5 linked regions of the Homo sapiens genome follow. The protein of the gene in region 1 purifies or fractionates together with the protein of each later gene. This does not show direct contact. Each region holds a gene or a part of one and is shown on either strand. Other genes may lie near its edges.

Region 1 (6,262 bases):
CAGAAACTGAAAAGGCCTAGCTGTCTATACTTTAGTTAGCTCACTGGGATCCCCACCTGGCTATCTTCTCTCCTACCCTGGAGCTCCACAGCCTTGTGCCATGGTTACTTGTGTACCTATCTTATTCCTGCAAGAGAATGGAAACTCAACCAGGACAGGGACTATGCCACCTATGTCTCTGAATGCCCTGGTGTGGTGTTTTGCAAGCAGAAAGTACTCAAATACTTGCGGCAATGAATTAAACTTTCTGACTGCTGGATGAAGCAGGCAGGGACCAGTGGCAGTAAGGGTTATGAGGATCCGGAATCATGGTGCCACTCTTTAGAGCACACCATCTGCTAGGAATATAATGCAAGCCAAATTTTCAATCTTAAATTTTTTAGCAGCCACATTGAGAAAGTTAAGTGAATATAGGTGAAATTACTTTAACAATTTATTTTATTTTATTTTATTTGAGACGGAATCTCGCTCTGTTGCCCAGGCTGGAGTGCAGTGGCGTGATCTCAGCTCACTGCAACCTCTGCCTCCTGAGTTCAAGTGATTCTCCTGCCTCAGCCTAAGTAGCTGGGACTACAGGTGTGTGCCACCACACCTAGCTCATTTTTTTTTTTTGTATTTTTACTAGAGATGGAGTTTCACCGTGTTGGCCAGGATGGTCTCGATTTCTTGACGTCATGATCCGCCCACCTCAGCCTCCCAAAGTGCTGGGATTACAGATGAGCCACCATGCCCAGCCAACAATATATTTTAACCCAATATCCAAAATACGATTTCAGTAGGTAATATAAGAACTATGAATGGGAATAAAATTTAATATGAAATCTGGTGTGTATAGCACACTTACAGCGCTTCTCAATTCAGACTAGCTACATTTCAAGGACTCAAGGGCTGGTGGCTACTGTACCGGACGGTACAGCTCTAGGACTCTAGATCTCAAACCTACACACCCATCTGCAACACAGGGAGCCACATAATCCAACTAGCAGGCTCAATACATCCTGAGGTAAATGAAGCACATTTCATGTACACACACTCACCCCAGAGGCCTGGCAATAAAGTTCTTTTACCTATCCATTTTCAGATATCTGACCCCCCAAATTTTTGTGGTAGAAATATCAGAGGGTGGGTACATGAGGAGCTACATGTTTTTCCTGGGAGATAACATAGGGAACAGGCATGATAGGAAAGAAGATACAGTAGTATATTCTCTTTCATCTGTAACTTTTATCCCTTTTAGCTGGGCTCAACTCTGACTTAATTTTGAGATAGAGTCTCACTCTATTGCCCAGGCTGGAGTGCAGTGGCGCGATCTCAGCTCACTATAGCCTCTGTCTCCTGGGTTCAAGTGATTCTCCTGCCTCAGCCACCCGAGTAGCTAGGACTACAGGTGTGTGCTACCACGCCCAGCTAATTTTTGTATTTTTAGTAGAGATGGGGTTTCACCATGTTGGCCAGGCTGGTCTTGAACTCCTGACCTCAAGTGATCTGCCTGCCTCGGCCTCCCAAAGTGCTGGGATTATAGGCGTGAGCCAATGCCCCCCACCAACTCTACTATTTTTATTGAAGCTGGCATATATACATATATATATATCTGTATGTATGTATTTTTAAGCAACTAATGCTTTAGGGAGGTTTCCACCCATAAAACTAGGATCATTAAAACTTTAGCCCCAACCTTTCTTCTAGGCCAGTAGAAGACTGACTGTGGAAGCCAGGTTATCTAATCACGGTATCCACAACTCTTCAGCAATCATATCACTGAACAGGCATCCAGAGTCAATAAAGGAAAATGAAAAGCAATTTGGCCTAGAGATGGGATCTGGTTCAACTGAGACTTCCGATTTCCCCACTCTGACTCCAGCTGATGGGCCAAGGCAACGGCGATGCATTGGCTACTTCAGGGTAAACTCTGGCTTCATTCCTTACCATGAATTTCTCAGCACTTCAACAATAATTTAGAAGAGAACTTTAAATTAAATTAAAGGCTTATACTAGTAGAATAGTTACCACTCTTTTGTTGCAACTATTTTGGCTCCATTTTGTTCTGATGAGTATCTATTACATGGCAATATTTCAAATCCACTGTCAGTTGCAAACATTCGCAAATAAATAAATACCTAAAACAGGAAAAAAAAATTGATAATGACTTTAAATGGTATACCCTGCTAGACTTTCTTACAATTATAAAAGCAAACCACCCGCAATGATGAAAAAAATGTAAGATCTAGCCTGAGCAACATAGCGAGACCCTGTCTCTACGAAAAACATTAGCCAAGCATGATGGCATGTACCTTTAGTGCCAGCTACGTGGGAGGCTGAGAGGAAGAATCACTTGAGCCCAAGAGATGGAAGCTGCAGTGAGCCATAATCAGGCCACTGCACTCCAGCCTGGGTGACAGAGCAAGATTCTGCCTCTAAAAAAACAATAAAATAAACAAAAAAAGTAAGATCATTAGGTAACAAACTTTATTGTTACTCAAGAGTTTTGAATGTCACAATTTTTCTCATTTTGCAATATTTGCATTACAGTAACTAGCTGAACACCTCTAAACAAAAAATTCAAAATCCTCCCATGAGCATTTCCTTTGAGTGTCAGGTCGGTGTTCAAAAAGTTTCAGATTTTGGAGCATTTCAAATTTTGGGGTTAAGGGTACTCACTCTGTATGAGTACCTAATGGCTTGTTTCCCTTAAGGCTCATAATGAATTTCACCTCTATATGACAAAGTTTTCTCTCCTTTTTTGGTTTTAGAGACAGGGTCTTGCTCTGTCTCCCAGGGCTGGAGCGCAGTGGCATGATCATAGCTCAGAGCAGCCTCTAACTCTTGGGCACAAGCAATGCTTCTGGCTCTGCTTCCTGAGTAGCCGGAACTACAAACTACAAAGGTACACACTACTATGCCTAGCTAATTTTTTTATTCTTATTTTTTTAGAGATGGAGTCTTGCTATGTTGCCCAGGCTGGTCTCGAAGTCCTGGCCTCAAGCAATACTCCCATCTTAGCCCCCACAAAGTGCTGGGATTACAAGCATGAGCCACTGAGCCTGGCCCAGTTTTTTCTCTGGACTGTCATCCAAATGACTGTATGTGTTACAAGATCTTCAGACTGATTAGTTTTATGAAAAATAAATTTAAAATTTCAGTATTAACTAACATTTAGGGTTTTAATTTACTTCACTATTCTTATCCAAATAGGTTAACAGCATCAGTCTTAATAAACTTACATGTTCTTTGAATAATTTCTCCTGCATTTTATTCTTGTTGAGAAAATAGTGCCGTGCCCATTCGCCTGAAGTCAAACATTTGAAGGCTTTCTCCAAGTGTTCATCTTTCTTAAAACGTTCAATTACTTCCTTTAGTTCTTCCTGCCTTCCTTTAATAGGCCTAAATCTGAAAGAAATCAAAAGAATGAATGGGTTATCTGCCACAATCCTTGCGCCACTGATCCATCTTAACAGATCTTGAGAAAGAGCTAATACCCTAAAAACAGCCATGGTTATCAGAGCAAAGATCTAAGAGAAGAGAACAACAATCAATAGTCTTGATTACTACTATTCAAGTAATACTGATCACCTGGATACGCAAGTTCTCTTTTTTCAATCTGTTATTTTAATATTTTTATTTCACTGTTATCTCAGTAACTTCTCTTTTTTCAATCTGTTATTTTAATTATTTTTATTTCACTGTTATCTCATTAACTGTGAGGTGAGCAGACGATTCAAACAAAAGCTGTCTGATTCAGACTTACACTAGTCGTCAACTTTGGGAGACACAAAATCAAAGCTCTAGAATACAGCACACCTAATTTAGAGTTAGAATGACAAGAATCTTTTTAAAACATGCAAAATCAAGCTGGAAGAGTGCCAGGCAATGAATTTCAGAAGTATGATGATGTAAACAAAACCATGCCATACACAAAAACATTCTTTATGTACACAGTCAGAAAAAACCCCAAACTAAGTATTCCAACAGGCTTCGAAACACACCTTGATGTTCTAACCACCCATGTCAAAGTCATCTTTGATGACTGCATTCAGAGAACAAAACGAGTACAAGCAGTGTTAACTCTAGTGGTGAAATTGCTATACTGGTAATGTAGGAAAACTGATGGGGTAGAGTTGTTTTTTTTTTTTTTTTTTGAGATGGAGTCTCACTCTGTGGCCCAGGCTGGAGTGCAGTGGTGTGATCTTGGCTCACTGCAACCTCTGCCTCCCGGGTTCAAGTGATTCTCTTGCCTCAGCCTCCCATGTAGCTGGGATGACAGGCGTGCGCCACCATGCCCAGCTAATTTTTGTATTTTTAGTAGAGACCATGTTGGCCAGGCTGGTCTTGAACTCCTAACCTCAAGTGGTCTGCCCACCTTGGCCTCCCAAAGTGCTGGGATTATAGGTGTGAGCCACTGCGCCTGGCCTGCAGGGGTAGAATTGAAAAGGCTTCCATTGTAGAATCAGCCACACTGATGTCTTCAGAATATTATCCCATTAGGTCTGTATTTATGCATGATGCAGTCATGGCCCAAGCAAGACAAATTTGTGAACCCCTCATTCTAAAGCTGTGTTTTCAGTAAAACGTGTACTATAAAGTTACTAGCATCTTAATTTCAAATTTTCTTTTCATGTCAATTTCATAAAGCTAATTCTCCCAAATAAAGTTTTTATTTTAAAAAAAAGTTTTATTTTATTTTCATAAAGCTAATTCTAACCGGATTATGGCCCGGTATGGTGGCTCTCACCTATAATCCCAGCACTTTGGGAGGTCGAGGCGGATGGATCACGAGGTCAGGAGATCGAGACCATCCTGGCCAACCTGGTGAAACCCCGTCTCTAAAATGCAAAAAATTAGCCAGGCCCACGTAGTGGTACACGCCTGTAGTCCTAGGTACTCAGGAGGCTGAGGCAGGGGAATTGCTTGAACTCGAGAGTTGAAGTTGGAGTGAGCCAAGATCGCGTCACTGCACTTCAGCCTGGTGACAGAGCAAGACTCTGTATCAAAAAAACAAAACAAAACGTCCAACAGAAAAAAGGAATCACCGATTGCCATTCAAATAAAATACATTAAGAAAAAATATTAGTGGTTCAGGAGAAAAAAATCTTTATGTGTCTTACTCTGACATTTAAAATTGTACATTTCATAAACCTGAATATGCTAAAATTGAGGTAAGATCTAGCACAAACTCCAGCAAAGGAAGCATTCAGCAGAATTTTTTTTCCTAGAGAAGCTATCATATATGTATTCATAGTATTTCAGTAAGATTTCAAGCCACAGTATTTCATCAAGGATTATTAGGTGCTGTGTTGTGTATACAGTGGCATATGAAGTGCTATGGTGAAAAATACAAGAGAAGACATGGCCACTGTTCTTGAATGGAAAATTTAATTGGGACTAAAAGACATATATATGCATCAAACAGTTAAGCAAGTGATCAATATGCAAATGCATGTTAATATGCTAAAAACTGCATTGCTATAGCACCTAAAAGTATAGAAATTATAACTAGGGTGCAAAATGTACATGGGAAAGGTTTAAGAAAAGCACATTATAAGCAGGTAAGAATCAAAAGGAAGGAAGAATGAGGGGAAGTCTAAGCAGAAGATCTTAATCAAGCTGGATTCAAAGAGTTGACCAGGGTCAGCTAGGTAGCAATAATAAAGTAAAGTACCAGAATCAGGAAGAGGAAAGACATGAGGTCCTGAACAGGTATAATACTGTTTACTGGACAGGATCACTGGAAGACTTCAGGTGTATTAATGCATACTGATACTACCAGGAACTTACTAGCTACACACTCTAGTCATTTTTTTTTTAATTCAGTAATCCTGAATTCTCACAACTATTAGCTGAACCATCTGAAAGTTCAAACATATCCTAGAGATAATACTGAAGAAATGAACAGGGCCCTATTTTCCATTTTCAATCAATTGGTATACAAGCCTTTACAGACAGATAAATGCAAGTCCTTTAAACAATTCAGAACGTCTTACTAGTCTGTCGACATATGGTGTCAGAGAACCACCATGAAAATAAAGAGCTGTAGAATTGGGAAAGCATCCAAATATCCATACTCAACTACTTGTAGCCATCACAATTGATTGTGTCAAGATACCATCTCCAAGAAATCCAATGGAAACCATTCTTGCTGCAATCCTACACTACATGGTTATTTGCACATGAAGGACAGATAAGACAACAAAGCAGCTCTCAGCTAAGGCATGACCTGTCGAGCAATATGAAATATGAAATATGAAATGGTGGGAAACAGATAACC
Region 2 (6,262 bases), on another chromosome or scaffold:
GGCTGAAGTGACTTTGGCTATGCAGAAAGGATGCTAAAATCATTTCTTTACAAAGAAACTTGTTGTCATGGTTATATTTCTTTCTGTTTCCATAGCATCAGAAATAAATAAAACCTTAGACTTAAAAACAAAAACTAAAGCCAAGCCTCTTCCTATAGTTTCTTGAAGTCTTTCCTTTGCTGTAAATTTACCAATCTTCATTATGTCATATTTGACTAATTGAATGCTTAGATCTGAGAAGAATATTCCTCATGCCACCCTTAACCTGGAACAAATTATGGCTGTTTTAGACAGATTATTCTGGATTTCTTCAGTGAAAAATTTATCAGTTTTCAGTGTGCATATTTTAAGCTGGGTTTTTTATTTTTTTACTTTTTGAGACAGGGTCTCACTCTGTCACCTAAGCAGAAGTACAGTGGCAAGACCACGGCTCACTGCAGCCTCAACTTTCTGGACTCAAGGAATCCTCACACCTCAGCCTCCTGAGCAGCTGGGACTATAGGTGCATGCCACCACACTGGCTAATTTTTTATAACAATTTTTTTTTTTTTTTTGAGACAGAGTCTCCCTCTGCCACCCAGGCTGGAGTGCAGTGGCACGATCTTGGTCCACTGGAACCTCTGCCTTCTGGATTCAAGCAGTTCTTCTGCCTCAGCCTCCCAAGTAGCTGGGATTACAGGTGCATACCAGCACGCCCGGCTAATTTTTTTATTTTTGGTAGAGACGGGGTTTCACCGTGTTGTCCAGGCTGATCTTGAACTCCTGACCTCATGATCCACCCACCTCGGCTTCCCAAAGTGCTGGGATTACAGGCGTGAGCCACCGCACCCGGCTTTTTATAATAATTTTTTATAGAGATGGGGTCTTGCTATGTTGCCCAGGGTGATCTTGAGCTCCTAGCCTCAAGTGTTCCTCCCAAAGTGCTGGGATTATAGGCATGAGCCAGTGCCTGGCTTAAGTTGGGTTTTAAGTGACTTTTTTTTTTTTGAGACAGTCTTGCTCTGTTGCGCAGGCTGGAGTACCGTGGCATGATCTCTGCTCACTGCAGCCTCTACCTACCAGGCTCAAGTGATTCTCTTCCCTCAGCCTCCTTAGTAGCTGGGATTGTCCTGAGTAGCTGGGATGATAGGCATGCGCCACCACGCCTGGCTAATTTTTGTATTTTCAGTAGAGATGGGGTCTCGCCATGTTGGCCAGGCTGGTCTCAAATTCCTGGCCTCAAGTGACCCACCCGCCTCAGTCTCCCAAAGTGTAGGGATTACAGGCATGAGCCACCATACCTGGCCATAAGTTACATTTTAATGGAATCTGAGCAATAGTCTCTGACCTTAAGGTCTTTTTTAGCCTACTGTTTCTGGGATTCTTCTTCCACGTCTCTCCTTGTTCCCAGGTGATAGGGAAGATATATTTATAAATAAAGGGTAGGAAGGTATCTGTAGTATTGTCTGATTAATAACTGGCTGTTACTGTGTTGGACTGCAGCTAAACTGAGGCTTCCTAAAGAATGGTACATTCATATACCTTTAGTTTATACTTCTTAAGGAACACTAGAAAGTGACTTCACTACATATTTTTTTCCCCAATCCCCAAAGTCCCATATAATAAATGTATGTGCTTTTTTCCTGTTGTTACGTACAAAACAAACAGAGAAAACACAACAATTCTTTCTTTCCAAATGAGAATCTCTTTGGTTTCTTATTAGCCATGTGACTCTCTTGGCTCTCCTTTGCCATGACCATTTGGATCTTTTGGAGTATATAACTTTCTGTGCTTTTCTACTCTTAAAGGAAACTGGTGGTGACAAAAGAGAAAGAGAAGAAAGTGGGGCTGTATACGATCTATGTGAATCCTGCCAATACCCACCAGTTTGCAGTGGGTGGACGAGATCAGTTTGTAAGGTGAGTTTGTGGCTCTTTTGTGTCTTTGACAGTTTGTAAGACTGATGCATTGTATACTACCAGGTGCTCCTTTATGGAGAGTTACGAATTTTATAGGAATCCATTAACTATTATCTTGAATTTTTTACCGTTTTCCAAAAATCTTACACGCCTTTGGAGATGTTCTGTTCTCTAATGTAACAGTCTCTGAGGGGTGACTTTACATATTTTAGAGATTATCAAGTTTTAAAGAAGTTAGATGATGGTCAGGTGTAGTGGCTCACACCTGTAATCTCGACACTTTGGGAGGTGAGGCGGGTGGATCACCTAAGGACAGGAGTTTGGGACCAGCCTGGCCAACATGGCAAAACTCTGTCTCTAAAAAAAAAAATACAAAAATTAGCCAGGCATGGTGGTACATGCGTGTAGTCCCAGCTGCTCAAGAGGCTGAGGCAGGAGGATCACTTGAGCTCAGGAGTCAGAGGTTGCAATGAGCCAAGATTGTGCCACTGCACTCCAGCCTGAATGACAGAGCGAGACTCTGTCTCAAAAAAGAAAAGAAAAGAAGTTAGATGAATTGACCAAGGTCCTCACGTGGCAGCTAAGCCATAAATTTAGGTTTACCAGCAAGTACTATATTAGTAAATAATCTACCTTTTTCGTATGTAAATAAACGTGCACTAGAAATTTTAAATACTGGTTTTCAATTCAGAAATAGTTTGACTTGGGAGCACTTAGTGTGAACTGAGGGTTTTTTGGCTCTCACTGTCCTGAGCTACCACTTTTTTTTATCCATAGTGATATCTTTGTTACCGTGAACACCTTTTGTTAACACTGGCTCTTGAGACATGACCTAAGGAAAACAGACACTGTGGATTCAGTCTCCATATGTATTAGTTAATTTCCTCTGACCCTTAGTAATAAGCTGTATCCATCCCTATCCAGTTGGCCTATTTTAACTATGTTTCTTTGGGCTCATCAGTTTGAAAGGAGAGAGAGGGGCAAGATCACTAGAAAAATGAGTGACTTTTTGCTTTCCTAATGGTAAGTGAAAAGCATCATCTTCCTTTTGAAATGAGAGCACATTTTATAGCTATATTTCCAGATTCATTTTATTAATAAGAATCATGGGGAATAGGGTAAATTTTTAGAAAATACATGAGATGACTTTGCCTTGTTCAAGAATCCTGGACAAAACCTTGTTTCTCTCTTCTTCCCCTATTCCCATGCCTTCAAAATTCGTTTCCTCTAGTCACCAACAGTCCTTAAATGTGTAGCCATAGATTTTTTTTTTTAGACAGAGTTTTACTCTTATTACCCATGCTGGAGTGCAGTGACACAATCTTGGCTCACTGCAACCTCCGCTTCCCGGGTTCAAGCGATTCTCCTGCCTCAGCCTCCCGAGTAGCTGGGATTACAGGTGCACGCCACCACGCCTGGCTAATTTTTTGTATTTTCAGTAGAACCGAGGTCTCACCGTGTTAGCCAGGCTAGTCTCGAACTCCTGACCTCAGGTGATCTGCCCGCCTTGGCCTCCCAAAGTGCTGGGATTGCAGGCATGAGCCACTGTGCCTGGCCAATTTTTTTTATTTTTAAATAAGAAGCTGTTGATCAAAAAGGGTTGTAGTTTGTATAGATTTTCAGTTGCTACCTCCTCCAAGTTGAGCATTCACTGAAATTTTGAGTTGAGAGTTCCTACTTAGAGCTCCAGATTACTTGAAAAGTCTGTGTCTCTAACAAATTCCACCACTAGGACCAAGATGTTTGGAGGGGAATGTAGTAGTTTGCTGTATTGAGAACTGTATTCATATGTATGTATGTATTCATATGTATTCATATGATATGTATATCATATTGCCTTAACCCAAAGCTGATACTTTCCCAGGGTTAGAGTAAGGCTTAGAGTTTTAGCATTTCAACACAAGGAGAAATACTCAAATCTTCTGTGTCTTATCAGCCTCAATATTCCTCTATTGGCTATTTACTGGGCAGAAGTTATGTGAAGATTTTTGTTTTTTTTTTGAGACAGAGTCTCACTTTGTTGCCCAGGCTGGAGTGTAGTGGCTCGATCTCGGCTCACTGCAACCTCTGCCTCCTGGGTTCAAGTGATTCTCATGCCTCAGCCTCCCAAGTAGCTGGGATTACAGGCATGTGCCACTTTGCCTGGCTATTTTTGTATTTTTAGTAGAGATACGGTTTTGCCATGTTGGCCAGGCTGGTCTCGAACTGTCTTCAAGTGATCCACCCACCTCGGCCTCTCAAAGTGCTGGGATTACAGTCGTGAGCCACCGCGCCTGGCTATGTGAAGATTTTGAGGCACGCTGATCCTACACAAGCAGGTAGCCCTTTCAGCACTCCAGCTCTTCTCTGACATTAGGTTACACTCAACTTCTCTGGCACCTCTCCTGTGCAGCCAACTGAATGTTTTGAGGTTTCTCCTTTCTTATTCTTCCTTTGAAAGAACCCAAACAGCTCATCTTCTGGTATAAATTTGAAAACATTTTTGCTGAATATTATATATCATAACATCATTAACTTTCACTCCTAGCCTAAAGGAATTACTTCAAGGGAATATAGAGAAATAGCTTACTGATCCTCAAGGCTTTTGCATCATTAATACTGAATTTTAGTTTAGGGTTATTAAAAAGTATTTAAGGGAAGCTCTGGGGAGACATGCTTTTTGGCCTGTGGCCAAAAAAAAAAAAAAGGTAAGTAGAGGAGGTATAGGTGTGAGTCCCTACTACACCTGCTAAGCTAAGCTAATTCCTGCTTAGCTTAGTTTTAAGAATTTATAGGGGTAAAGAAAAAGAGAATATATCAGGTGAATCCTTTAGTGGTAAATTTGGCTGACATGAAAATTTATTGCTAAAGGATTAAGTATAGGCCCTGATTGATGAAGCACAGTCAGTAAATCATCTCTTCATTCCCCAGTTCTTAAGCCAACATCAGCAACACTGAGAGAACATTAGATTAAAGGCAGGTATAGAAGAGAGACTTAGGGTAACAAGTTAGTGGGTGCCTGAAGGCATGTGGGAAGAGATGTGGTAAAGGTGTGCACACTATTCCTTACGTGACTTAAAATGTCAAGGGGCTTGGTGTGGTGGCTCATGACTATAAAACTAGAGCACTTTGGAAGGCCAAAGCTGGAGGATAGCTTGAGGTCAGAAGTTCAAGGCCAACTTGGGCAATATAGCAAGACTGTGTCTCTACCAAAAAAAAAAAAAATTAAGAAAAAATTTTAATTTTTTAATTAATTAAATATCTCCAGGTGTGGTGGTATGCTCCTGTAGTCCCAACTACTTGGGAGGCAGAGGAGGATCTCTTGAGCCCAGGAGTTTGAGGCTACAGTGAGCTGTGATTACACCACTGCACTCCATCCTGGATGACAGAGTGAGACCCTGTCTCAAAAAAAATAACTAAAAGTAAAATATAAACTATCAAGGGCCTATCATATGTTCAGAAAGTGGTAGGAAAGTTTGTATTAATCTTTCTATGCTTACTGTCTATCACAGGGCTTGACAAACTGTAGTGCTTGTTTTTATAAATAAAGTTTTATTGGAACACAGCCATGGCCTTACTTTACATGTTGTTTATGACCACTTTCATGCTACAATGGCAGAATTCAATAGTTTTAATAGAGATTAGATGGTTTGCCAGTTTACCAGCTTAAAACATTTACTGTCTTGTCCTTTAAGAAAAAGTTTGCCAAACTCCGTTCTAGCATCATATGTAGAATATAGTAAGCTATTAATAAACACTTAGTTGGGGTGTAGTGGCTTATACCTGTAATCCCAGCACTTTGGGAGGCTGAGGCAGGAGAATCTTTTGAGGCCAGGAGTTTGAGACCAAGCTGGGCAGATGCTGTCTCCACCAAAAAATAAAAATATTAGCTCAGCATGGTGGTGTGTGCCTGTAGTCCCAGCTACGCGGCAGGTTGAGGCGGGAGGATCGTGTGAGCTGGGGATGTCAAGGCTTAAGTCATCAGTAACCTAACTGCCAAAGCAAACAAAGTACTTTTCAAGTCTTTTTCTCTACTCTTGACATTATTACTCCTTCCCTGAAGCACCTTCTCTCCTTGATGTCCAACCACTCCTCAGTGTTGTTCATGGGTGTGTCTTCCTTTCTCCACCCATTAAATGCTGATGTTCTCCAGTAGCTCAGTCTTCAGCTCTCATCTTACTCTATACCAGGGAATTTTAACTTGAAGTACAAATATTATGTGAACCTCCAGAAAGTATGCTTATGTGCATTTTTCTGGGGAGAAGGGACTAGAGTTTTCATTATATTCTGAAACAGGCCAGAGATTCTAAAGGGCGAAGGGAAAATCTTCTCTGTATTTTCCCTTGGAGATCTAATTCCATTACCAATGCTTTAACTACCACCTT
Region 3 (4,620 bases), about 68 Mb from region 1:
GCATCATGGGGAAAGGAGAGCACCACAAGGCCCCTGTGACCTGAGTCCCCTCCTCACGGCTCCTGGCAGGCGATGTTCTATGTAGGGGGCTGGCTGGGGGACAGGCAGCGGCCAGCATGGGCCCTGGGGCAGGACACAAACTCACTGCAGCTTTTCCAGGCGGCACTGGGGGTCCAGGAGTCCTTCGCAGAGCAGCTGCAGGCCCGCATCCCCCAAGAGGTTGTCGCTGAGGTGCAGCTCCTGCAGGGTGGGCAGGGTGCGTAGTGTGCTGGACAGGACCCCGCAGCCGGCCCCCGTCAGGCAGCAGTTCTGGAGGCTGGAGCATACCTGGCTGTCAGCAGGGCTCCCCTGAGCCAAGCTGCCACGCCCTTCGCCTGCCAGAGCCCAGAGCCCGGAGCAGCACTCTTCAGGCGGCAGGTCTATACCTGCTCCTTCCCTGGACGGGGCTCTGGGGTCTGGGGTCTCCAGGCCGAGTGAAGGAGGGCACGCATGTGGCTCGACCCAGGGAAACCTTGTCTGCAGACACACCTTTCAGTGGGGGTCTGTGGTGATGCTGGAAGGCTAGGGATGGCGGGCAGGGCCAGATCTTGGGTGCGGGGGCTGGGATAAGGCAGGAAGGGCCCTGTCCCCCCCGCTGTGAGACCGCCAGGCCTGTGTGCCTCTGGCTGATGTTGGAAATGTCTGCTGCCACTGCCTGTCCACCTGCAGCTGCCCACGCGCCCCTGGCGGCTCTGTCCCCTGCTGCCGGGCTACCAAAGCAGACTGCACCAGGCCAGAGGCAGTGCCAGGCCCCGCCTCACCTCAGCTTCTGGATCTTGCAGGAGGGGGTCTGCAGGCCCTGGAGCACGCAATGCACGCCGACATCGCCCAGCTCGTTGCTGCGCAGGTTGAGCTCTGCCAGTGCAGGGTTGACTCGAAGTGCAGAGCTGATGTCCTTGCACCGTGCTTCCGTGAGGCCACAGTCGTCCAGCCTGTGAGCAGACCCCAGGGTCATGTGGACCACGCAGACAGCACTGGCCTCAGCCTCCACCACCACCCCACGTGCAGGTTACAACCTATCAGTGGGCCCAGAAGACAGCAAGGCAAGTCACACAAGACATTTCAGAAATGAAACAAAAAGGAGGAACTGTTCCATGAAAGTTTTGTTTAAGATGCTCGCACGTGGCCAGGCGCGGTGGCTCACGCCTGTAATCCCAGCACTTTGGGAGGCCGAGGCAGGCAGATCACCTGAGGTCGGGAGTTCAAGACCAACCTGACCAACATGGAGAAACCCCGTCTTTACTAAAAATACAAAAGTAGCCGGGCGTGGTGGCGCATGCCCATAATCCCAGCTACTCGGGAGGCTGAGGCAGGAGGATCACTTGAGCCCAGGAGGTTGAGGCCGCATAAGCCATGAGGGAGCCACTCCAGCCTGGGTGACAGAGCAATGCCCTGTCTCTAAAAATAAAAAGAATTTAAAGTATCTCTCGAAGGCACTGATCAGTCACAGGAGGAAAGGCAGTGGCGTCACAGTGGAGAGGGTGGCAGACGGCGCCTGTGACAGGACGCTCCTGGCAGGCCCCACGGCATCTCCCTGCATTCCTGCCAAAACTGTAGGACTTCAACCACAAGAAACCACCAGACAAGCCCCAACAGAGGACGTCCTGCAGGAGCCTGGCCAGACCCTCAGACCACCAAGAACCCAGAGAGACGAGGGGACAGTCACAGACGGGAGAGGGCTAAGGAGACAGAGGGCTGAGGGCCACGCAATCCTGGACCAGTGAGGAAGACGAAAAGGGCAGGGCGGAAAAGCAGACCCTGCCTGGAGGTGCTGGGCCAGAGCTAGCGTCCGCAGGTACACAGGACCACCTCACCAGGGAGCCCCGTCCGGTCCTCGTAACTCCTCCGCAAACCTGACACTACTTGAAATCACCAGGTAAAAAGAGAAAAGATGCGGCCCACCCAGGCACTCGTGTCCTGCTTGTGAAGCTGCTGGGTTTGTGAGGACCTCGAGGGCCGAGGACTCCCAGCCCCCAGCTTGGCAGGGACAAGCAGCGCCCCATGGAGGCTCACGGAGGGGACCCAAGCTGTGTCCTGCCCTCGTGTCTCCAAGGGAGGGAGAGGAGCTGAGACACCGGAGCCAGAGACCCACTGGCCAGTGGCCGCCCACCTCGGCCCGCCCACCTCAGCCCATGCTGCATGAGCCTGGAATGGGTTTTACATTCCTAAATTGTCAAAAAGAAACACAAGAATCACATCTCATGCACGTGGTAGCTGCACAGAATTCATACTTCATGTCCACAAACAAGGCGTTCCAGAGCAATGCACCCTTCAGAGGGAGCCGCCACCCGCCAGCCTGCCCCACCAGCACCCCAAGGCCACCCCGAGAGCAAGCGTACCTGACCACTTGGCACTGCTGGAGCAGAGGGAGGAGCTCGGCCCATCTAGCGTCGCTCAGCTCCTCACACTGGATGTCCAGGCTCTGGATGTCCAGGCTCATGGTGGAGGTGAAGAGTGGCCTGGGTGGGAGGCAGAGGGAAGAGGACGTCTTGGCCGAATCCCCTCACAGTTTCACAGGCCGGAGATTCTGCAAACAGGACCCACAGGGCTGATGTTTCAGGAGGAGCCGCAGCCTCTCCCTGGGCAAACACTTCCTCTTCAGCACCCTCCCCACCTTTGTCTCTGGAGCAGACATCAGGGGTGGGGCAGGGGGCAGGGACCAGCACCCACCCCCAGAAAGGCCACCATGGGCAGCAGAGCTTGGGTAATGCAGATGCCAGCCCATCTCCTGGCTATCACCACCCAGCCTCTGTGGGCACCTCCTCCTGCCCCACAGAGGGCGGGACAGCAGCAGCCCGGGAAGCCCCTGCCTCTCATTTGCTTGGGCAAGGACAGGGTAGGGTGGGGTGGTCTGTGAGCCTGGAGGCCCCAGCAGGGGAGCAAGGGGGTCTGTGGGCTTGACCTGTGTCTCACCCTCAGGACAGGCAGACTGTGCGGGCCAGGCAGGCTGCCCACAAAGCCAGAGACCTCCCAGGATGCCAGGATCCTGGACCCGGCCACAGTGTCCGAAGCAAGACAGAGCAGGGGGGCGGCCACTTGGGGTGTCAGCTTCCATGGCCCCCTTCTGGGGTTGGGGACTCTGCACCAGGCTACAGCACATCCCCTGCCCCACGGCACACTAGCCCAGAGGCTGGGCTACCAGGCAAGCTGGGTGGGTCAGCCTGGGATGGGCACAGCTGCTACACCCTGAAGCCTCCCCAGGCACAGGCCCTGAATATGGAAGGAGGTTCCTGAGGCCCTGAGAGCACAGCTCAGGTACCCGCCAGGGGCCTGGGGAAAGTGGTCAGGCAGAGACAGCCACCCCAAACCTTGGTTGGTGGATACATTCCCTGAGCACCTGCCAAGCACTGGCCTGGGGACTACAGCAGGGCAGGAACCTGGAGAGGAGGCTTGGATGGCCAGGAAGGCTCCCTGGAAGCAGCAGCACTGATGCCACAATGCGGGGAGGGGTGGGTGGGGTGGGGAGAGGGCTCTCATCCAGAAGCCCCAGAAAGTTGGCAGGATCCACTTGGGGAAATGATGCAACCCCAGCTGCCCTTCAGAAAGACGGCCAACAGGACCGCTTGAGAGGCTCCTGGTGCCCTGACACCCCCAGCTTCCTGAGTCTGTGTGCCTGGCACTCCTCTCCCCGGGGCTGCTTCAGAGGCGGCTGGTCCACTCTGCATGAGTGGAGGCAAGAGGCCCCTGGTACCAACTGGGAGGAAAGACGCAAGGCTGGGCTCGGGTCCACACGCCTGGGCGCCCGGCCTGCAAGGACAGTGGCAAAGGGTGGTGACATCCCACGGCCCCACATGGAGGAACTGAATCCAACCGACCCGAAGCACGTGAGCAAAACCGACCAGGGTGTGGTCACCCAAATTCTGACTCCAGAATCTAGTCATCAGGAGGCACTGTGGGCGGGAGGGCGGGTGGAAGGAGAGCCTCAGGGGGCTGCCCAGGGTGCACACGCTCCCCAAATCCAGCCTGACACTCCTGTGTCCTCTGCAGCCAGATGAAAGGTGGCCCCAGGGTGTCCTCCTCCTGGGAAAGCTTGGTGGGAGCTCAGGGTGGCCAGTGCTCCCGTGACCATCTGCAACTAGCGCTGCGGGAGTAGCCCCGTCCCTACCCCTCAGGCTTGGCCAGACCCTGTTGTATCCCAGAAAGGCCCTTCTGAATCTCTGTGGGTCACGGATCCCACTGAGGACCCCATGAAAATGCGGGAGTAAACGCCCTTCTCTGTGACTGGAGAAGTCCCTGGCTCCCTACACAGCCAAAGCTAAAAGCACATTCAGGAACCCACTACCACCAGCTGGCAGCCTGCTTTGGTTGAGGCAGGGATCTGAACAGAGGCCCTAACGGTCCCTTATCCGGAGACCAGACTTTCTCAACCTTACGGAGGGAGGTCTCCGCAGCACCCAAGGCCTGGGCCCCACCCTGGGGAGCCACATGGGAGGGGCCGTCTGGAGGCCAATTCAGGTCCTTATGTTCCGACGTGACGGGGGCGCGGGGCCACCCTCTAGGGAGACACGGGCCACGCTCAGGCGACGCGCAAAAGTTCCCGGTCCCTGGGACCCCCGCCCGCGCCCGCGTCGAGTCCCTCGA
Region 4 (6,262 bases), on another chromosome or scaffold:
CTAGGGAGTCTGACCTAGATTTTGGCTCCAAAAGCCAGGGCTTCTTATCTCTGTCCCCCGCAGAGACCAGAACCTGGATGGGACAGGGCTCAGAGGTTGGGCACAGCCTTTGCTCCAAGGCTCCTGGGCACAGTGCCCACCTCCCATCCCCTGGTGAGCGTTGCCAGCAAGGCTATTATGAGGAAATCTTTCCTCCTCTTCCTTCCGAAGTCTCCCACGGGCCTATTAGCTCTGCAAGAGTGCAGGGGAAGGCTGCACAGCACTGCAGATGGAGGGGAAGGTGGCAGGGGCAGCAGGTGGCAGGGGCTCCCAGGGAACCTGTGGTCAGAGGGGTGGGGGTGATTCAGAGCAGGCTAAGAGTGGGAAGTGGACTGAAGACAGAAGGGCTGGAGGCACCATCACCCCATCCATTACACCCCAGACAGCTTGACTTTTGCCTAGCAACCCTTGGCTTCCAGGTGATGAGCAATAATGGTAGACACTGGGGTGCTCAGAAACCAATACCTCTAAGAGATGGCACTTTGAAATGCTAAACTGAAGAAGCCTCAAGATCTCTCTGACCTCCCCTTTCCTTCTGTCTCTCGATCCACTCTCCCCCAAAGCACAGGAGGAAGCTATTCTCTGAAGTTCCCTCACCTGCCTAAAGTCTGGACCTGCCAAAGATGAAAACAATGACGTCTGGTCCTTTCCATGAGTTATTATGAACTGAACTCATATTGCAGGAAGAAAGACAAGTCTGTCAACATGGCTAGACAGACTTGTCACAAACCACTGTCTGCTCTGCAGGCCCAACAGACTTTATCCCAGACCATTTATGTTCTTTAAGCCCAATGAATTCCCCTAAAAATCATTTACGACATCCCTAAAATCATCCGCACCTCCCCATCTCCCTTCCCCTAAGAGGAAGGGAATATAACCCTCTGTATCCCAATGCGTGGTAGGGAAATCTCTTGTGATTCTCCCCTGTCCACATTCATACATTTGTATGCCATTTCTTGTATTAGTCTTCCTTTTGCCAGTTGATTTTCAGCGGACCTTCAGAGGGTGGAGGGAGGTTTTCCTTTGGCCCCTACGTGGACGAGGGCTGCATTACGTTGTACACAGGAGCAGTGGGTTCCCTTGGGCACTGTGGGAGCCTCCCTTCAGCAAGAGCAGATGGGGTGAGGCTAGGGAAGGCAGCCTGGACTTACGTCGATGGAGCAGCCAAGGAGAGAGCCTTTTTGCAGAGCTTTCTGGATGATCTTGAACAGGTTGGGAGGGGGCTTCTTCAACTCATACCACTCAGCAATGCCTCCGGTGAAGTCTTCGAAGCCCTCAGTGGTGGCACCCCCTGATAGCGCTTCATAGCATCCGTTGATCCTACAAGAGGGGATTAGACGCTGCCGCTACCCTTGACACTACTGATGCTATAATCTCTCAAACAGCCACCCCCTAGTACCGTCTAGATTTGATGCTCCAGGGACCCCCTGCTCACATTCTCCTTGGCCTTGTTCCCAGCTCGGGGTGCTCAGGAAGGCAAGGTATAATGTCCACAGTTACCATTTCCCTGGTATTTTGTGTTTTAAAGAAAATCTCAGGCCGGGCGCGGTAGCTCATGCCTGTAATCCCAGCACTCTGGGAGGCCGAGGTGGGCGGATCACTTGAGGTCAGGAGTTCAAGACCAGCCTGGCCAACATGGCAAAACACCATCTCTACTAAAAATACAAAAAAATTAGCTGGGCATGGTGGTGCATGCCTGTAGTCCCAGCTACTTGGGAGGCTGAGGCAAAAGAATTGCTGAAACTCAGAACGTGGAAATTGCAGTGAGCTGAGATCATGCCGCTCACTCCAGCCTGGGTGACAGAATGAGGCTCCGTATTAAAAAAAAAAAAAAAAAAAAAGATTCTCGTAGAACCTTAGAGTCGGAAGGACCTTAGTGATTTTCTGGATGAACCTCCTGTATTGATTCCTTCTACATCCTGACAAGAAAGGGGAGGTCTACTAATGGGTCGTTTGGCATTGATAGCTTAAAAAAGGACAACCATTCAATAATGGAAGCAGTTTCTCTGAGAAACAGGCACGGTGTTGGCAAGGGCTTAGTGCTCCTGACTGCTGATGCTGGAGTCCGGTGGCTTCCCTGACCCCAGTATTGAGCAGTGGGACTTAGAAGCATCCGTCAGGCTCCAGGTTCTCACAGCTGACTCCTCCTTCCTGGATTGGGACTGTAAGAAACAGAAATCCACTTGCTGCTCTAAAGTGGGGTCACTTTAATGGAAGGAGCCGGGCGGCACAGCCAACATGGGGCCATTGTGGAGAGGGGCTGGTGTGGGGCTTCTTACTGAGAGTGGGCAGCCCTGAGCACTGGACAAACTCAACTGTGGGCAACCTGGGTGGGAAGCAGCTGTGCGGAGATGGGGAAGCCATTGCTAATCAGTGACATCATCTATTCTGGGCAAGTTTCCTACCTCTGCAATGAATAGTTCTGCCCATTGGCAAAAATTCTGCTTTTTTAAGTTGATACAAATGTGTCCTGTCAAGGAAGTAGAGCTCCTTCTCAAGTCCAGCACAATCAGTACCATAACTTGTTCCTGTGCATTTGGTTAAAGATGGTGATAGACATCATTTATCAGCGTACAGTGCAGCCAGGCACCCTGCATGCACTATCTCCTTGCATTTAGAGCCTAATTTTGGCCAAAGAAGTCCTTCTATAGAAAAGGACTTCCCACTCAAAGTAGTCCTGGAGTAGTTCTACTGATTTTTATATTTTTAGTAGAGACGGGGTTTCATCATGTTGGCCAGGCTGGTCTCGAACTCCTGACCTCAAATGATCCACCCACCTCGGCCTCCCAAAGTGCTGAGATTACAGGCATGAGTGAATTTTTTGGAATCCAGGGCATTGGGGGAAGGCCATGGGGCCAGGGGAGGATGGCAACTTACTTGGCGTATGCCTTCTCCAGCAGGGCGCTCCAGAACTCGCTCCCTTCGGCTGAATGCACAAAGAGCAGCTCCCCGTCCTTGGTGGGCAGCCTGTCATCCACCACCACCTCCACCCACTCGCCGTATTGCCAGAACTGCAGAACAAGAGAGGTGGGCTGCAGGAGGAGCTGGTGGCAGCACTGGGACTCTGAGCCTCAGCTGCCTCTGGCTCCCCTTGCCCTGATCCCCTGGGATAGGTTCCATGAGCGCATCCTGGGAGGAGGTGCTCCCTTAACTCTCCTATGCAGGCCAAGTCCTCACTAAAAAAGCGAAGACAGAGGCGCATGTCCATCCTTTCAAATCCACACCCGCCTCTTTAGCATTCTGCCCTGTACCTTAGGCTGTTTTTTTTTTTTTTTGAGACCAAGTCTTGCTCTGCCCAGGCTGGAGTGCAGTGGCACGATCTCGGCTCACTGCAACCTCTGCCTCCTGGATGCAAGTGATTCTCTTGCCTCAGCCTCCCGAGTAGCTGGGATTAAGGGCACGTGCCACCACACCCGGCTAATTTTTTTTGTGTTTTTAGTAGAGACGGAGTTTCAGCATGTTGCCCCAGCTGGTCTCGAACTCCTGGGCTCAAGTGATCCACCCACCTTGGCCTCCCAACCTCTGCCTCCCAGGTTAAAGTGATTCTCCTGCCTCAGCCTCCCAAGTAGCTGGGATTACAGGCCTGCACTACTACGCCCAACTGATTTTTGTACTTTTAGTAGAGATGGGGTTTCATCATGTTGGCCAGGCTGGTCTCGAACTCCTGACCTCAAATGATCTGCCCACCTCGGCCTCCCAAAGTGCTGAGATTACGGGCATGAGCTACCGTGCCCAGCCAGCTTTTTCAAGTATTATTTCTCATTTACCGGCATAAAAGGAGGAGAACTTCAACGTTTTTGTCTCAAACATCAAATAATACAGTTTTTTTTTTTAAACTTGGGAATTAGTTCCTGAACACCTTGCTCTACCTCCCTTTTACATGTCCCAAGAAACCACCCAGGGCCATCCCAGCCGGGTCTCACATCCTGGCCACGGGTAAGCCAGGAAGCTTCCTGCTCTCGCCCAATGTCCTTTGTAGAACAGTATTGGTCTTGGGAGTCTGCAAACACCAGGGACTGATGAACCCAGCCAAGCCAGAAGACTGTTCCTAGCCCCCTGGACCTGTTGAGGAACCACCTGAGCCAACCATTAAGTTACCTGGAAGTGAAAGATCCCTGCATAGTTTTCCTGGAAGCTCTGGTTTAGGGGGACGACTCGAGCCAGGATTTCTTCATTCAAGGTGAGGGAGGCAATGGCTGCCAGCAGCCAGCAGTCACCTGTGAACACAGCACAAGGAGCTCTTATCAGAGGGTCTTAGAACCAGGAGGATGTTAAAAATCTTGTCTCCACCTCCAGGGGCTTAAAGCCTAAGACAACCTGTGAATAGACAGAGTGAAGTTTCAGGCAGTCCCCCATATGAGGGTTGGGTCAGAGGGTTTGGGGGCTATTAGGTTGGTGTAAAAGTAATTGTGATTTTTGCACCAACCTAGTATTTTGAGGGAAATGCAAAGGGAGAAATGTTTTTGCTGTGTTGTGGTTGGGCAGAGATGGGAAATTTCATTCCCTGAAAGACCCAGAACTCTGGTGGCTGAACTGTGCCCTCAGAGCCCAGCCTTGCACCTGATTCGCAGCAGATGCTCCACAGTGAGAGAATGAAACCAGCGCAGCTGCAGAGGCTTCTGAGCACACAGGCTTTGAATGGGAGTTTGGGCTGGGTGTGGTGGCGTACACCTGGAGTCCCAGCTATAATACGAATACTTGGGAGGCTGCGGCAGGAGGATCCCTTGAGCCCAGGATTTCAAGGCTGCAGTGAGCCATGATTGCACCACTGCACTCCAGCCTGGGCAACAGAGGGAGACCCTCATCTCTAAATAAATAAACAAACAAATATATAAAGGGGAGTTTGAGTGAGAGAAAGAAAACGTAGTGCTAGATGGGAAGGGGACAAACGTTGCACGCCTCCTAGGAGGAAGGTCAGAGCCAGGAAAAGAGGCTCTGGCAGGGAGTACAGTCGCAGGAAGTAAGTACGGAGCAGTGCAGATGGAAAAGCCCTGAGTCAGAGGCAGAAGGCTGGACTGTCCCGAAGGGTTTCTGTGCGGAGGGGCAGAGGTCACTTCAAGGGGTAGACAAGGATGGGCACAACGAGGTGGGCAGCTGGCCAGGCAGCCTGGTCCCTCTCTGAGCCTCAGAACCCTCCCCCATGACATGGATAAGTGTGAGGCATAATGAGAGCAGGTGTGTAAGCACTCGGCACCCATTTGGTGCCAGTGCTAGGTTCTCAGCACAGCAGGCACCACAATCATTTCATGCAGTTAGAAGCAAGCTGATGCCAGCAACAGCACCCAGATGGTTTGCAGGGAGGGGTCATCTTCACCACAAAACACAAACAAAGGGGAGGGGGCCTGGGAAGAGGATGAGGAAGTTTACTCCATTCTTAAGGAATGTGCACTTTCCTACAATTTCCCATGACAATAATGGGAAGTAGCCTCAAAGGAGTTTAATTCACTGTTGGATTTATTTTCGCCAATTGACAGGTTTATTAAAAATGTTACTGAAGACTAGGCGCAGCGGCTCACGCCTGTAATCCCAACACTTTGGGAGGCCAAGGTCAGTGGGTTGTTTGAGCACAGGAGCTCGACACTGGCCTCGGCAACATGGTAAAACTTTGTCTCGACAAAAAAATACAAAAATTTGCCAGGTGTGGTGGTAGACACCTGTAGTCCCAGCTACTTGGGAGGCTGAGGTGGGAGGACTATTTGAGCTCAGGAGGTGGAGGCTGCAGTGAGATGTGATCATGCCACTGCACTCAGCCTGGGTGACAGAAGAGCAAGACCCTGTCTCAAAAAAAAAAAAAAAAATATATATATATATATATATACACACATATATATAAAATATGTAATATATGTAATATTGTTATATATATCAGTAACATATATATATGTTATTGAAGTTCACTGAATTCTTTGGTTTTGTTTTGTTTTTTGAGACAGTCTCGCTCTTGTCACCCAGGCTGGAGTGCAATGGTGTCATCTTGGCTCACTGCAACCTCTGCCTCCTGGGTTCAAGTGATTCTCCTGCCTCAGCCTCCCAAGTAGATGGGATTATAGGCACCTGCCACCATGCTTGGCTAATTTTTTGTATTTTCAGTAGAGACAGGGTTTCCCCATGTTGGCCAGGCTGATCTTTAACTCCTGACCTCAGGTGATCGCCTGCCTCAGACTCCCAAAGTGCTGGTATTACAGGCGTGAGCCAGCAGGACCAGCTGAAGCTCACTGAATTC
Region 5 (6,262 bases), on another chromosome or scaffold:
TCTGAAGAAAAAAAAAGAGATTCAAGAAGCATACACACAGGCCTCTTTGGATCCTGATTTAAACAAAGCATAGATTTTTAAAGCAAAAAAATTTTAAAAAGAAAACATTTGGCCAGGTGCGGTGGCTCACGCCTGTAATCCCTGCACTTTGGGAGGCTGAGGCGGGCAGATCACTTGAGGTCAGGAGTTCGAGACCAGCCTGGCCAACATGGCAAAACCTCCTCTCTACTAAAAATACAAAAATTAGCCGGGCGTGGTGGCGGACACCTGTAATCCCTCAGCTACTGGGGAGGCTGAGGCAGGAGAATTGCTTAAACCCGGGAGGTGGAGGTGGAGGTTGCAGTGAGCCAAGATTTCGCCACTGCACTCCAGCTTGGGTGACAGAGCAAGACTCCATCTCAAAAAATAAAATAAAAAAAAAATAAAAAATAAAAGAAACATTTATGGGACAGTCATGAAAAATGTGAACACTGACCAGATATTTGATAAGTTAAAGGAGGATGGCATTGTCATTATCTTTACAAGTTCTTGTCTTTTAGACATACCTTACTGAAATATTTATAGATAAAACATCATGTCTGGGATTTGCTTAAAATAATCAGGGTGACATATAGAAGAAGAAAAATTGGTCACAAACTGATATTTGTTGGAGCTGGGTAATGGAATGAATACCTGGAATTCACTGTACTTAGTCTACTTTTATATGTTTGAAATTTTCCATTAAGAAGTTTTAGGCTGGGCGTGGTGGCTCATGCCTGTAATCCTAGCACTTTGGGAGGCCAAAGCAGGCAGATTGCCTGAGCTGAGGAGTTCAAGACCAGCCTGGGCAACATGGTGAAACCTTGTCTCTACTAAAATGTAAAAAATTAGCTGGGTGTGGTGGCGTGTGCCTGTAATCCCAGCTACTCAGGAGACTGAGACAGGAGAATGGCTTGAACCCGGGAGGTGGAGGTTGCAGTGAAGCAAGATTGAGCCATTGCACTCCAGTCTGGGCAACAGAGCAAGACTCCATCTCAAAAATAAATAAATAAATAAATAAATAAAAAGTTTTAAACTTTTTATTTAAACTTTTTATTCCTGGAACATCTGAAATCTCTAATTTAAACTTTATTACCCAGAAATGATATCATCTCAGAAATGAGAGACTCTCACATTCAAATCTCTAGCCTTAGCATATTGTCCCATGTCATGCACTTGTTCTCTTGAACTTAAAGTGACTTTCAGCTCAGATCCCTCCATTTTCTCCCAATCTCTCAATTCCCTCTGCCACTCTAAGTCACAACAATCAACTGTCCATATGAACTGCAATTGACTTTTCTGGATATGCAGGCTGATGAGTACTGCTGGGAGTGGAAGTAAAACTGTAGATGGATTTGCTACAAAGTCACAGACCACAACAGGCATAATCTTTTCATTTATCAATCTTTTATCTGACCTTACTCAGCTTTTCATACTATTCTTCTTAGAAATTGCCCAAAAGCACTCATCATTTCTCCTCAGCTCCCTCTACTCAACCTCACAAACTACCACCTAGTACTCTGAAAAGAGCAACATAGCTTTGGATGTATTTGTACTTAATGTTTCTTTACAGATAATTTGTTATATTAAAACAGTTCTAACTGTAAAAGAAAATTCATTAACAAAGAGATTTTAGCAAAACCTTTCTAGAAAACAGCAAAGTTACATTTTAAAACTTACTGTTCACAGCAATCCATTCATTGAGATCCTCTCCCTCAGGCAACATAACAGCTTGTCTCAGATTCCCACTTCCTAGAGTTGCTTCTGCATGTTTTAAGAGTTCATACTGATGAGATCCTTCAGGGATATTCTTCTTTGGTTTGAATGTTTTAGAAGAGCGGCTGCTGCTGTAAGATTAAAAGTGCAAGTATATGAATTTTTAAGACTGGAAGTAGAACAGGTAGAACAACATAATTTTAGGTATATAAAGTAGCCTGTAAAAATAAAATAAAAAATACTCTCTGGGCCAGGCATGGTGGCTCATGCCTGTAATCCCAGCACTTTGGGATCACCTGAGGTCAGGAGTTCAAGACCAGCCTGACCAACATGGTGAAACCACACGTCTACTAAAAATACAAAAATTAGCCAAGCATGATGGCGCACACCTGTAGTCCCAGCTACTTGGGAGGCTGAGGCAGAAGAATGGCTTGAACCTGGGAGGCAGAGGTTGCAGTAAGCTGAAATCGCATCACTGCACTCCAGCCCAGGTGACAGAGCAAGACTCAGTCTCAAAAAAAACAAAAACACTCTCTGAAAAATGCCAAGATAGGAAGATGATGATCACAATACAAGAATGCTTTTTTTCCCCTGCCTGTAAAAGCAAGATTAGCAGCACAATTCCACAAATAAGGCAATTTTACTATGCCCTCTGAAGAAGTCTGGTACAGAGAAACATCCTGGATTTTAGTTCTTGATCTGACACTAACTGTGTCTTCTTGAGAAACTGAACCTTCTTTTGGCCTCAATTTCGGTTTTTTTTTTTTTTTTTTTTTTGAGATGTAGTCTTACTCTGTCACCCAGGCTGGAATGTAGTGGCACAATCTCGGCTCACTGCAATCTCCACCTCCTGGGTTCAAGCGATTCTCCTGCCTCAGCCTCTCGAGTAGCTGGGATTATAGGCATGCACCACCACACCCAGCTAATTTTTTTTTTTTTTAGTAGAGATGGGATTTTGCCATGTTTGCCAGGCTGGTGTCGAACTCCTGACCTCAAGTGATACACCCGCCTCAGCCTCCCAAAGTGCTATAGAAAATGATGGGGCCATGCCGGGCGCGGTGGCTCACGCCTGTAATCCCAGCACTTTGGGAGGCCGAGACGGGTGGATCACGAGGTCAGGAGATCGAGACCATCCTGGCTAACACGGTGAAACCCCGTCTCTACTAAAAATACAAAAATTAGCCGGGCGTGGTGGAGGGCGCCTGTAGTCCCAGCTACACGGGAGGCTGAGGCAGGAGAATGGGGTGAACCCGGGAGGCGGAGCTTGCAGTGAGTCGAGATCGCACCACTGCACTCCAGCCTGGGCGACAGAGCGAAACTCCGTCTCAAAAAAAAAAAAAAAAAAAAAGAAAATGATGGGGCCATGGCTAGGTGCGGTGGCTCACACCTGTAATCCCAGCACTTTGGGAGGCCGAGGCAGTGGATCACGAGGTCAAGAGATTGAGACTATCCTGCCCAACATGGTGAAACCCCGTCTCCACTAAAAAACAAGTACAAAAATTAGCTGGGCGTGGTGGCACACGCCTGTAGTCCCAGCTACTCGGGAAGCTGAGGCAGGAGAATGGCTTGAACCCAGGAGGCGGAGGTTGCAGTGAGCCAAGCTTGCACCACTGCACTCCAGCTTGGCAACAGAGTGAGACTCCGTCTCAAAAAAAAAAAAAAAAGAAAAGAAAAGAAAAAAGAAAATGGTGGAGCCAAGTGCAGTCGCTCACACCTCTAATCCCAGCCATTTGAGAGACCAAGGCAGGAGGATTTCTTGAGCCCAGGAGTTTGAGACCAGCCAGGACAACATAGTAAGGCGGAATGGGGGGTGGGGAAGATAAAAAGAAAATGGCGCAGGGAGGTTTAGTTCAAAAATCCAGTATTCTATATCAAAATATTTGAGACGCCTTGAAAGCAAACCACAGTAAAAGAAACACTAACATCTTTAAGTTTATAATAGGGAAAATAAATGAGACAGGCACAACTCGTTATTGAGGAAAAAATGTTTTTATTCCTATCTCACACCATCCATAAAGTCTTCCTGCACAAAACTCAGAAACCTCAAAGAAAAAGTGGACAGATTTCAAATAGTATCAATTAAAACTTTCATAACAGAGCAAAAAGACAAGTAACCAAATAAAAGTACTTGTAACATATATTACAAAGGATGAACTGGATAATAGAGGGCTTCTGTAACTCGTTAAGAATATAAGGAATCCTTTAGAAAAATAGGCTAAGGAGATGAATAGGCAATTCAGAAGTATGACAATCAATGAGCATGAGAAAAACTGTTCAATTAAAGTAAGATTTATTTTTTCCCTAATCTGAATGTCAAAAGTTTAAATGATTACATTAAATGTGGACTAGGGTAGGGGCCCCCAACCCCAAGGACACAGACTGGAGCCCACAGAAGGAGATGAGCAGTGAGCAAGCAGCAAAGCTTCATCTGTATTTACAGCTGCTCCCCATTGCTGGCATTACCACCTGAGCTCCACCTCTTGTCATATCAGCAGAGGCATTAGGTTCTCACAGGAGCGTGAACACTACTGTGAACTGTGCATGCAAGGGATCTAAATTGCATGTGCCTTATGAGAATCTAAAGCCTGATGATCTGTCACTCTCTCCCATTACCCCCAGATGGGATTGTCTAGTTGCTCAGAGCTCCCACTGATTATACATTATGATGAGTGGTAGAATTATTTCATTATATATTCCAATGTCATAATAGAAATAAAGTGCACAATCAATGTAATGCATTTGAATCATCCAGAAACCATCTCCCCAACCAGATCTGTGGAAAAATTGTCTTCCACAAAACTGGTCCCTGGTGCCAAAAAGGTTAGGGACCACTGGACTAGGGTACAGAGAAACTAGTATTTTAATACACTACTGGTGAAAGTATAAAGTGTAACATTTTGGGAGGGCAATATGGTAGTATCTATTAATACTGAAAAGCTCCTCAAGCCATCCATTCTACTTCTAAATATCTCCTCTAGATATGGATAAGAATTTTTTTCCAAGATTGTTTTTAATAGGGAGAAACCTAGAAGCAATCCTCAAGTTTATCAGTAGAGGATTGAATTAAAGTATGGTACATCCATATCATGGAATATTGTATAGAAGTTAAGAAAACCAGACAGAGTACACGTATTCACAGGGAAAGATCTAATACATGGTTAAACATAATACACAACCAAACGTACAGCAGGAGCCCATTTTGTAAATACATAGAAAATATCAAAAACTAAACTCATCAAAACTGGTGATTACTTCTAGGAAGAGGAATGGAATAGAACTATGGACTTTTACTTTACCTGAGTAATTTGGAATTTAAATAAGACTGATTAAGAAGTAAAAAAGAGCCGGGTGCAGTGGCTCACACCTGTAATCCCAGCACTCTGGGAGGGCAAGGCGGGTGGATCACTTGAGGTCAGGAGTTTGAGACCACCCTGACCAACATAGTGAAACCCCGCCTCTACTACACACACACACACACACACACACACACACACACACACACAAACTAGCCGGGCGTGGTGGCAAGTGCCTGTAATCCCAGCTACTTGGGAGGCTGAGGCAGGAGAATTGCTTGAACCCGGGATGCAGAGGTTGCAGTGAGCTGAGATCGCACCACTGCACTCCAGCCTAGGCAACAGAGTGAGACCCTGTCTCAAAAAAAAAAAAAAAAAAAAAAAGGAGGTAAAAAAGAATGATGAAAACACTAAAAATCATATCTGAAAAGTTTTTAACATGATAAAAAAAACTATATTGAACAAGGAAGAAAATATTTGCAAATCATAGATGTGATAAAGACTTGTATCTAGAATGTATAAAGAAGTCCTACAACTCAAAAAGACAGCCCAATTTAAAAACAGGCAAGGCCGGGCGCAGTGGCTCACGCGTGTAATCCCTGCACTTTGGGAGGCCGAGGTGGGCGGATCACTAGGTCAGGATATTGAGACCATCTTGGCTAACACGGTGAAACCCCGTCTCTACTAAAAACACAAAATATTAGCCAGGCATGGTGGCAGGCGCCTGTAGTCCCAGCTACTTGGGAGACTGAGGCAGGAGAATGGCGTGAACCCGGGAGGCGGAGCTTACAGTGAGCCGAGATTGAGCCACTGCACTCCAGCCTGGGCGACAGAGCAAGACTCTGTCTCAAAAAAAAAAAAAAAGAAAATTAACAAGTGCTATGAGAGGTGTGGGGAAATTGGACCCCTCATAGAGTACTTATGGGAATGTAAAATGGTGCAGCACTTTGAAGTTTGGCAGTTCCTCAAAAGGTTAAACATAGTTACCACTTAAGCCAGCAATTCTGCTCCTAAGTATATACCCAAGAGATATGAACACATACATCCACGCAAAAACCTGTCACATATGTTCACAGCAGCATTATTCATAATGGCCAAAAAGCGGGAACAACTCAAGTGTCCATCAAGAAGGCCAAGTTTTAAAAAAAGAAAGTCTCGGCCGAGTGCGGGAGTGGATCATCTGAGGTCAGGAGTTCGAGACCAGCCTGGCCAACATGATGAAACCCAGTCTCCAC

What was found.
Region 2: the proteins of KMT5B (region 1) and DCAF8 purify together in Homo sapiens (affinity purification with mass spectrometry, with the first as the bait; one large-scale study listed by BioGRID). This does not show direct contact.
Region 3: the proteins of KMT5B (region 1) and RNH1 purify together in Homo sapiens (affinity purification with mass spectrometry, with the first as the bait; one large-scale study listed by BioGRID). This does not show direct contact.
Region 4: the proteins of KMT5B (region 1) and CAPN2 purify together in Homo sapiens (affinity purification with mass spectrometry, with the first as the bait; one large-scale study listed by BioGRID). This does not show direct contact.
Region 5: the proteins of KMT5B (region 1) and MOB1A purify together in Homo sapiens (affinity purification with mass spectrometry; one large-scale study listed by BioGRID and IntAct). This does not show direct contact.

What each region holds. Positions count from the first base shown.
Region 1 is NC_000011.10:68,171,797-68,178,058, forward strand, and holds part of KMT5B (histone-lysine N-methyltransferase KMT5B), read right to left. Parts: intron 3,388-6,262; coding exon 3,222-3,387; intron 2,118-3,221; coding exon 2,008-2,117; intron 1-2,007. UniProt on the Homo sapiens protein: Histone methyltransferase that specifically methylates monomethylated 'Lys-20' (H4K20me1) and dimethylated 'Lys-20' (H4K20me2) of histone H4 to produce respectively dimethylated 'Lys-20' (H4K20me2) and trimethylated 'Lys-20' (H4K20me3) and thus regulates transcription and maintenance of genome integrity.
Region 2 is NC_000001.11:160,226,933-160,233,194, reverse strand, and holds part of DCAF8 (DDB1- and CUL4-associated factor 8), read left to right. Parts: intron 1-1,787; coding exon 1,788-1,898; intron 1,899-6,262. UniProt on the Homo sapiens protein: May function as a substrate receptor for CUL4-DDB1 E3 ubiquitin-protein ligase complex.
Region 3 is NC_000011.10:499,684-504,303, forward strand, and holds part of RNH1 (ribonuclease inhibitor), read right to left. Parts: intron 2,567-4,620; 5' UTR 2,480-2,566; coding exon 2,379-2,479; intron 972-2,378; coding exon 801-971; intron 317-800; coding exon 146-316; intron 1-145. UniProt on the Homo sapiens protein: Ribonuclease inhibitor which inhibits RNASE1, RNASE2 and angiogenin (ANG). May play a role in redox homeostasis. Required to inhibit the cytotoxic tRNA ribonuclease activity of ANG in the cytoplasm in absence of stress.
Region 4 is NC_000001.11:223,742,094-223,748,355, reverse strand, and holds part of CAPN2 (calpain-2 catalytic subunit), read right to left. Parts: intron 4,257-6,262; coding exon 4,138-4,256; intron 3,051-4,137; coding exon 2,917-3,050; intron 1,360-2,916; coding exon 1,191-1,359; intron 1-1,190. UniProt on the Homo sapiens protein: Calcium-regulated non-lysosomal thiol-protease which catalyzes limited proteolysis of substrates involved in cytoskeletal remodeling and signal transduction. Proteolytically cleaves MYOC at 'Arg-226'.
Region 5 is NC_000002.12:74,170,888-74,177,149, forward strand, and holds part of MOB1A (MOB kinase activator 1A), read right to left. Parts: intron 1,866-6,262; coding exon 1,699-1,865; intron 1-1,698. UniProt on the Homo sapiens protein: Activator of LATS1/2 in the Hippo signaling pathway which plays a pivotal role in organ size control and tumor suppression by restricting proliferation and promoting apoptosis.